Linked DNA regions of Homo sapiens. The protein of the gene in region 2 purifies or fractionates together with the protein of the main gene of each other region. This does not show direct contact. Each region holds a gene or a part of one and is shown on either strand. Other genes may lie near its edges.

Region 1 (3,660 bases), on a different chromosome or scaffold from region 2:
CTTTCCGCACATACTATATATCTGAGCTCTTCATCAATTTAAAATCGTCATCCTTCAGAAAATTAGGATATTAACCAAGACTTCTGGCCATTGATTAGGGAAATTGCTATTTTCTTTCCCATTATATTTTGGCTGGTTTCCAAACCAATCCAAATATAGAGTTATCACCTACTTAAAGTTACTTCATAGAGCATATGCACTATGAAAACAACAAAAGAGACCTAACAGAAGAATGGCCCAGATAAAACACAAATAACATATTTGGGAGAAAATATGCATTTATGCTTACTGTCTTAGAGGAAAACATTCTTCGTATTTCACTGGTGCTACTACTAAACATGTGTGGCATAACAAAATTCAACAGCGACATGAGTTCTAACAGATTGTTCTGTACAGGTGTGCCTGTGAGCAGCAAACGGTTATTTGCCTGTGAATGAAGGTAAAATTTATATTAGCTTTTTCTTAAAGAGCCACTCCTTTCATGTCTATCCTCCCCAGTGAAAGGTGAAGGGAGGAGAGATAAATTAAAACCATTATTAATAATTTAACATTCTGTGATAAATGATATAGTAATTTAAATAATTGACGTCCGCTATTATCAACAGCAATGAATACGAAAACCATTGGTCTTCTTTTATAAGTAGGTAACTTGTGTCCTCGTATCACCTTTATGAGATGATGAAAGATTATTTATAAATAGTTTAACATATAGAACAGGTAAATTATGGCTTATGACCTAATAATTTTTTAAAGGGTTGTTAAAAAACAAAATCAAAGAATACGTGACAGAGGCCATCTAGTCCATAAAGTGTGAAATATTTACTATCTTCCCTTTTACAGAAAAAACTTGCTAACACAGAATACTACATATATTAAACTACATAATACAGATTCTGCTAATAAATACTACATATATTAAATTACGTAATCTAAATTTTACAGTAATTTGGAAAACTTTACAAACATTCTCTTACATTAATTGTCATAAGGTGCTGGTAGCGAATGGAGCCCATATTCTTCAGCATATGGCCCTCATCAAAAATTGCGTAATTAAGTTTCAGCCGTCGAAACAGACTACGGTCATCAGAACTGCTGATCGCACAGTTATATCTGTCACCAAAAGAAAAAACATCTCTAAGGTTATACCTTTAAGAGCTTGGAGTCTAGTGAAATTTAATGTCTTATAAAATCATTTTTTATTTACACATTTCTAACAGCCAGTACTTAAAGCACAGCACTAGACACGGGTGATACTCAAATAAATACTGACGTACTTGTATTTAATAATTATTGATGTACACTGTAACCAAGCTATGAAAGCTGCAATACATAATTGAAAGAAAATGTTAAAAGGCTGGGAGCGGTGGCTCACACCTGTAATCCCAGCACTTTTGGAGGCCGAGGCGGGCGGATCACGAGGTCAGAAGATCGAGACCATCCTGGCTAACACGGTGAAACCCTGTCTCTACTAAAAATATAAAAAATTAGCCGGGTGTGGTGGTGGGCGCCTGTAGTCCCAGCTATTCAGGAGGCTGAGGCAGGAGAATGGCGTGAACCCGGGAGGCAAGAGGTTGCAGTAAGCTGAGATCGCGCCACTGCACTCTAGCCTGGGGGACAGAGTGAGACTCCGTCTCAAAAAAAAAAAAAAAAAAGAAAATGTTAATGTTACAATCGGACAACTTCTACATACCCAGGAGGAGGTCAATTTGGGTATAACTTGTAAGTAATCTGCTCCATGAAGTGTTATATTTTAATAAGCACAAAAAAGAACGTGAAGCTAAAACATGTTTCTCTTTAAAACTTAATATTTTATTAAACTAGCAGATTAGATCCAAGAAATAATAGTTAATAGCTAGCAGCTTGAGACTGCATATGGAGCCTGTTTTATTAAGAAAAAATAAAATTCCGCATGAATTTTTAAAGGACAGACTCCTACACAAGAAGCCAGTAGAGAGAAATAATAACTACAGTTAAAATAGAACTTTAAATAAATCAACTAATGTAACACAAGAGCATTAAGTTCTGTGCAAGATATTTACATCAATTATTACCAAGTAGTATTATTAGTATTATTTTTCATTTTTATTTCTGCCCTAACTCAAATTTTTCATTGAGAAAATGAAATTTCATTGTATTTATTACAGATACTTATTTGTAAGTTAAAAATATAAATAATTTTGGTGGGATATCTCAAATTTTACTTTAAGCTTAACTGAGAAATTACTATTACAAGACGACTTTTTTCAATAACTAGGCAAAACCTTTTTATAGTCACCATTAATGAGGTGATTCACTAACAAAAACCTCCTATATGGGTATTACACACCAAACTAAAAAATGCCTGAATCCTCAACATTAGTCATTCTATTACTTTCGTATCACAGTTAACAGCATAAACTTTCCTACATAGTACTACTACAATTTCTTTTTTAAATTTGGGGGCTGCATAAATATCCATCCTCCCCAAATTTCTCAATACTTACGTGGTCACAATTACATTGTAATCTTCATATCTACTATGAATGTTAAATCTAATTTGTTTACGTTCTTCTTGAGAACCTAGAATTTAAAAACAATAAACACATGACTATTTATTGTGCTGTACTTTATTTTTAATTTCCAAAGTTAAAAGCAGAATGACATATTCTTACCATAGTAACAGAGGACCTTCAAAGTAGGGCACCATAAATTAACTTCCCTTAACCAGTTATCTATGGAACAGAAGAGACATTATTTGCATCTGCTACAATAGGGTATGTTCACATGGTTAAATTAACACTAAACTTTGACAAGTGCTACTCAGAAATCAGTCTTTTATAAAAAGTAAATACTGGCCCAGCAAGGTGGCTCATGCCTGTAATCCCAACACTTTGGGAAGCTGAGGCGGGTGGATCACCTGAGGTCAGGAGTTTGATACCAGCCTGGCCAACATGGTGAAACCCCATCTCCACTAAAAATACAAAAATTAGCCAGGCATGGTGGCGGGCGCCTGTAGTCCCAGCTACTCGGGAGGCTGAGGCACGAGAACCTGGGAGGCGGAGGTTGCGGTGAGCCAAGATTGAGCCACCACACTCCAGCCTGGGTGACACAGCGAGACTGTCTTAAAAAAAATAAATAAAAATTAAAAATTAAAATATAAATACCATGGCGATTGTTTTTATCACAGACCCTTTACAATATTACTCCTTATGAAACCTATGTAAAATGATCTTGAGGTTTTGTGAGGCATCAAAATGAAGGGCAGATGACCAAATATTATATTTACAGTTGATTATTAACCTCCAATTTAAAGAGAAGGGGGTTTTCTTTGTTACATTCACATGTACAAATATTCTCTTATTCTAACTTCTACATCCAACGAATTGAGAAAGAATGGAACAGTTATGTGTGTAGGAATTAATTACGTATCTGTTTAATTCTACATTTAAAAGTACTCATTTTCTCTTAGTCACTTTTAAAAGTAACTAAAAGTATTATGAAACCAACATAAATCGTCCTTGGTCTAAAATTTTAAAACTGACTTACATTTGAGTTCTTTTTAAAAGACTGCCAATATAATCAAACACACATATATAAACAAAGGAGAAAAGTATAAAGAGACCATAAAATTAATATTCATCTCTACAAACTAAGAAACCACAACACCCCTCCGACACACAC
Region 2 (3,448 bases):
AGTGACAGAGCAAGACCCTGTCTTAAAAAAAAAAAAAAGGCCAGGCGCAGTGGCTTATGCCTGTAATCCCAGCACTTTGGGAGGCCGAGGTGGGTGGATCCACGAGGTCAGGAGATCGAGACCAACCTGGCCAACATGGTGAAACCCCATCTCTACTAAAAATACACAAAAATTAGCTGGGTGTGGTGGTGCATGCCTGTAGTCCCAGCTACTTGGGAGGCTGAGGCAGGAGAATCACTTGAACCTGGGAGGCGGAGGTTGCAGCAAGCCGAGACAGCACCAGCTGCACTCCAGCCTGATGACAGAGGGAGACTCCATCTCAAAAAAAAAAAAAAAAAAAAAAAAGAATTAAGAATCCCCATGTGCATATCATTGTCTTGAAAATAGCTGGGATTGAGTTATCTTGCACAACATTCAGTCCATTCACATTGAAGCAGGACATGAAGCTTATAGCTTGCCTGATAATGTTAAAAATGTAAATCTAATACCTGTTGATAAATATAAATTCAATAATAAACCTTTAGTAATGTACTTTTCATTTTTTACAGGTGTGATGTGGTAGAGAGATTTGGTAAAAGTAAAGATGGTAGTCAGTGTGGAGAAACCTTAAGCCAGATTCGAAATAGTATTGTAAACAAGAACACTCCCGCCAGAGTAGATGCATGTGGAAGCAGTGTGAATGGAGAAGTCATAATGGGTCATTCATCCCTGAATTGCTACATCAGAGTTGATACTGGACACAAACACCGGGAGTGTCATGAATATGCAGAGAAGTCATATACACATAAGCAGTGTGGGAAAGGCTTAAGTTATCGCCACTCCTTTCAAACATGTGAAAGGCCTCACACTGGAAAGAAACCCTATGATTGTAAGGAATGTGGAAAAACCTTCAGTTCTCCTGGAAACCTTCGAAGACATATGGTAGTAAAAGGTGGAGATGGACCTTATAAATGTGAATTGTGTGGGAAAGCCTTTTTTTGGCCCAGTTTATTACGTATGCATGAAAGAACTCACACTGGAGAGAAACCATATGAATGTAAGCAGTGTTCTAAAGCCTTCCCTGTTTACAGTTCCTATCTAAGACATGAAAAAATACACACTGGGGAGAAACCGTATGAATGTAAGCAGTGTTCTAAAGCCTTCCCTGATTACAGTTCATATCTAAGACATGAAAGAACTCACACTGGAGAGAAACCCTACAAATGTAAACAATGTGGGAAAGCCTTCAGTGTTTCCGGTTCCCTTCGAGTACATGAAAGAATTCACACTGGAGAGAAACCCTATACATGTAAACAGTGTGGGAAAGCGTTTTGTCATCTTGGAAGCTTTCAAAGACACATGATAATGCACAGTGGAGATGGACCTCATAAATGTAAGATATGTGGGAAAGGCTTTGATTTTCCTGGTTCAGCACGAATTCATGAAGGAACTCACACTCTAGAGAAACCCTATGAATGTAAGCAATGTGGGAAATTGTTATCTCATCGCTCAAGCTTTCGAAGACACATGATGGCACACACTGGAGATGGCCCTCATAAATGCACAGTATGTGGGAAAGCCTTTGATTCTCCTAGTGTATTTCAAAGACATGAAAGGACTCACACTGGAGAGAAACCCTATGAATGCAAGCAATGTGGGAAAGCCTTCCGTACTTCCAGTTCCCTTCGAAAACATGAAACAACACACACTGGAGAGCAACCCTATAAATGTAAATGTGGAAAAGCTTTTAGTGATTTATTTTCCTTTCAAAGTCATGAAACAACACACAGTGAAGAGGAGCCTTATGAATGTAAGGAGTGTGGGAAAGCATTTAGTTCTTTTAAATACTTTTGTCGCCATGAAAGGACTCACAGTGAAGAAAAATCTTATGAGTGTCAAATTTGTGGCAAAGCCTTCAGTCGTTTCAGTTACTTAAAAACTCATGAAAGGACTCACACGGCAGAGAAGCCATATGAATGTAAGCAATGCAGGAAAGCATTCTTTTGGCCCTCTTTCCTTCTAAGACATGAAAGGACTCACACTGGAGAAAGACCCTATGAATGTAAACACTGTGGTAAAGCCTTCAGTCGTTCCAGTTTCTGTCGAGAACATGAAAGAACTCACACTGGAGAGAAGCCCTATGAATGTAAGGAATGTGGGAAAGCCTTCAGTTCTCTCAGTTCCTTTAATAGACATAAAAGGACACACTGGAAGGATATTCTATAAGTGTATGGAATGTGGGAAAGCATTCATTGGTTTTATCACATTCAGATACTTGAAAGAAATAAATCCTGTGAATGTAAACGTGGTAAAGCCTTAAGAAGTTTCCAGGCTGGGCGCAGCGGCTCACACCTGTAATCCCAGCACTTTGAGAGGCCGAGGAGGGCAGATCACGAGGCCAGGAGATCGAGACCAGCCTGGCTAACATGGGAAACCCTGTCTCTACTAAAAATACGGAAAAAAAAAAAAATAGCCAGGCATAGTTGCTCACACCTGTAGTCCTAGCTACTCAGGAGGCTGAGGCAGGAGAATCCCTTGAACCCGGGAGGTGGAGGTTGCAGTGAGCCGAGATTGCACTACTGCACTCCAGCTTGGGTGCTAGAGCGAGACTCCATCTCAAAAAAAAAAAAAAAAGTTTCCATTTCTTTCAAATAGAGTTGCTGCCTGCTATATGCAAGAAGATTGGTTCCAGTACACCCTGAGTATACCTAAATCCACAGATGCCAGCTCTTTTATAAAATGGAATATTCGCATGTACCTACCCACATTCTCCTGTATACTCTATAAATGTCTAGATTAATTAAAATATCTCATGCATTGTAAAAGCTGTGTACATAGTTGTATTGTTTAGGGAATCATAAGAAAAAAAATCTATATGTGTTCAGTACAGACCCAACCATTGCAGGCCTATCTACATCGTATATATCACCTATAATGTTACAGTTTCTTGTTTCAATACTCAGATTACTTTTGTCTAATGACCTGAAAGAATGTGTTAACACCAACCACAATTCTGGTTCTTCTCTCTTGATAACCCAAGTATTACGATGGTTATGACAATGATGATTGCTGTATGGTGCCTAATGTGATGTGTAGAGGTGACTAGATGTGTGGCATCATAGATAAACAGTGAGACCTCAGGCTAACTTGAATCTTGACAGGACATCAAGACCTTCATCTATGTTGGAAGACCCAGGTTCTGATTGAAGATGTTGACTCTTTGCAGGAGGCTAATACTAATGTCAGCATCTGTTCAGCTTGAGGGCTGAAGATGTTTGTGTTGAAGGGTATGTCTTCATATTTGCAGATATTTAGTTAGAAGCATTGTTTTAGGAAGCTAGTTCTTTTTCTTTGAATCCCTAAAAAAACCTTAGTGTTCATTAGCATATTTTCCCTTATATGACACAGAAGCTTTTTTCAATCAAAGGATGTTAGCTGAGGTTGATTATCTTTAACACTTGCAACTTGC
Region 3 (2,626 bases), on a different chromosome or scaffold from region 2:
CTGGAAACTTCCACGTCATGAGGGTGGGAGGGGTGAGGAAGGTACCAGAATGCTCCTAGCCAATCAGGGCTTCTAGCTTGCCACACAAGGTTTCTAGTTTCATTTGACATTTGTGGACATTTTAACAAGATTCTGTTTTGAGCCCACCAAGTTGCTTTTCCCATCTTTTCACTCTGCCCTAATATAGCATGGAATGCTGCTTGGTGCTGTTCCCTTGTCTTCCTGGTTGTTCTCCCTGCTTCTTTCTTTCTCCCTTTCCTTTCCTCTCTCTGTTTTTCTCTGTTGCTTTCTCAGTTTTGCTTATGCCCTCCCCCTCCCCACCTCCTTTCCTTCTCCCATTTTTAAAATGCATGGACATCTTAGTTTTTTGAGCATGTTTTGATCTGCAGGCTAAGGTGGTTTAAAACTCTGAGAGGCTTAATTATTTATCTTGGTTTCTGGGATGGAAGCAGAACCCATAGTCTATTTACTCTCTCCCAGGGAGAAAAAGGAACCTTGCCAAATTGAGGGTGAGAGGGGGTGGTGCTTGCTCCCCTAGAGTTCCTTCTGACCCAGAAGGAACAGACAGACCCTGAGGCCACTAGCCCCCATGAATCTCAGCCTCTGGGAGGCAGGGAGGACTGAGCATGCTCCCTTACACCCCTCCCCTCCTTCCCTGCCTTCCTGCCATCTTGCTGAGTCCAAACCCCAAGCACAGAGGGGCATGATCAGACAGCTCTGGGGCACAGACTGAGAGGAGGAACTCAGCACACCCTTCCTTTCCAAGGCCAGTGACATTGTCTGACAGTGGTTGCCTTCAAGCAGGCAGCATCTTGGTTGCTTCCAGCGGCAGAAAGCTGGCCAGTGCTTACACACGTGTTTCCAGTTGGAGTGTTATCAGCCATGGTTCTGACAATATTCTAGGGTCCTTAGATGAGCACACTTCCTGTATCTGCATTATTTTTATAGCATTAGTGGGGTTGATCCCCAGGCTCACCTTTCCTTACCAAATACCATCCCATCAGACTGGGATTAATGGGAGGAGAAGCTTTGAAGTCACATGCTCAATTTCTTGAGTTGATTTTCCCCGACCTCATCCTTTGATGCTAAGCAAGAAGGGCTCTGAAATTCTCATTCCTATTTCTTACATGAATGAGTAGTGAAGAGGGGAGATGCTGGTTTTGGTGCAGGGCAAAATTAGTCTTTCTGGTTTAAACACGAATCACGATAACCCAAACCCAGGAAGGTCCATGCTGCGATTCCCTGGCACTTCTTCTTTGTAGTCACTTCGGTGACCGGCTTGTGCTGCACCCTCCATTGACTAGCCTTGGCATATTGACAAGAGCAGGATGCCCCTCCATCCATCCCATCCTCACCATCTCTCCTTCCAACCTTCTCACTACGGGGTGGGGGAGGGGAAAGCCCCAAATCTTAAAAAAAAAAAAAAAATCAAGTTTGAATCTTAATTTAATCCACAACCTGCAGGCCATACAACCAGTTATTCTCGTTCCTTTGAATCATTTTCTGTTTTTCTTATTCTTCCCCCTCCCCCACCTTTGTTTATCCTCTTCTACCTGTTTTTGGTGGTTTCTTTTTTTTGTTTCGTTTTTTGTTTTTTGTTTTTGTTTTAAGTTTATTTTGTTTTATTTTTGTTTCCCTTCCTCCCTTCTCACCTGATTCTGACCTCTCTTGATTTGGTGTGGTTCTTAACAGACAAGCCCGAAAGCTCTCTGGGCGCCAGCAGCCTCATGGTGGTGGTGTGTTAAAACCTTTAAGCCTCTTGCTAGCGCTGCCTTCAGCTATGTGGGCTCAACAGTGAGCATTTTGAGAGTTTCATATTGATACGAGGCGGCTGGGGAAGGAGCTCTGTCTTTCTCTTTTAAACACACACACACTCACACTCACACACTCACACACACACATCACTGGGGGATGGGGGTGGTAGTGGTGGGAATGGGAGTGAAGGGCCGAGGAAACTTGATGGGAAAGTGAGGGACTGTCTAAGCCAAAAGAGCTTTTCAGTTCTTCTCAATTTGGACAAAGCCACTTTTTGGCAAATAGATGCCACCATCTGCAGGTGGCCGCCTCCATGCTGCTCTCGTATATAATTTGGGCATGGTGGGGCATGGGTGTTTAGTAGGGGTTGGGGGAAGCAAGTAGAGAGTTCAGACTCTTAAATAAGTTGTTTGCCAGAGCAGGCTTAGATCTGGGCACTGTGAAGTAAGCGACCCACCCTGGGGGGGCGCCACTGTAATTGTCCTCGGACCACTGGGCGTGCCACCTCTGTGGGACATCCCTTAGGTGACCTCAGCTTGGGTGTGAGCATTAGGTAACTCTCTCCCTTGGCATCTGTGCCCTCTATTCACAGATAACTCTCTCCCCTGTTTCTAGGAGAAAAAAAAAGTGCGTTCGCTACATACAAGGTGAAGGCAGCTGCCTCAGCCCACCCTCTTCAGATGGAAGCTTACTAGATTCGCCTCCCCCCTCCCCGAACCTGCTAGGCTCCCCTCCCCGAGACGCCAAGTCACAGACTGAGCAGACCCAGCCTCTGTCGCTGTCCCTGAAGCCCGACCCCCTGGCCCACCTGTCCATGATGCCTCCGCCACCCGCCCTCCTGCTCGCTGAGGCCACCCACAAGGCCTCCGCC

Evidence for each region.
Region 1: the proteins of ZNF44 (region 2) and SMARCAD1 purify together in Homo sapiens (affinity purification with mass spectrometry; one large-scale study listed by BioGRID and IntAct). This does not show direct contact.
Region 3: the proteins of ZNF44 (region 2) and TCF7L2 purify together in Homo sapiens (affinity purification with mass spectrometry; one large-scale study listed by BioGRID and IntAct). This does not show direct contact.

Annotation. Positions count from the first base shown.
Region 1 is NC_000004.12:94,273,789-94,277,448, reverse strand, and holds part of SMARCAD1 (SWI/SNF-related matrix-associated actin-dependent regulator of chromatin subfamily A containing DEAD/H box 1), read right to left. Parts: intron 2,712-3,660; coding exon 2,652-2,711; intron 2,560-2,651; coding exon 2,484-2,559; intron 1,111-2,483; coding exon 975-1,110; intron 428-974; coding exon 290-427; intron 1-289. UniProt on the Homo sapiens protein: DNA helicase that possesses intrinsic ATP-dependent nucleosome-remodeling activity and is both required for DNA repair and heterochromatin organization.
Region 2 is NC_000019.10:12,271,164-12,274,611, reverse strand, and holds the end of ZNF44 (zinc finger protein 44), read left to right. Parts: intron 1-546; exon of another isoform or gene 547-548; coding exon 549-2,205; 3' UTR 2,206-2,804; downstream 2,805-3,448. UniProt on the Homo sapiens protein: May be involved in transcriptional regulation.
Region 3 is NC_000010.11:113,163,185-113,165,810, forward strand, and holds part of TCF7L2 (transcription factor 7-like 2), read left to right. Parts: intron 1-2,370; coding exon 2,371-2,626. UniProt on the Homo sapiens protein: Participates in the Wnt signaling pathway and modulates MYC expression by binding to its promoter in a sequence-specific manner. Acts as a repressor in the absence of CTNNB1, and as activator in its presence.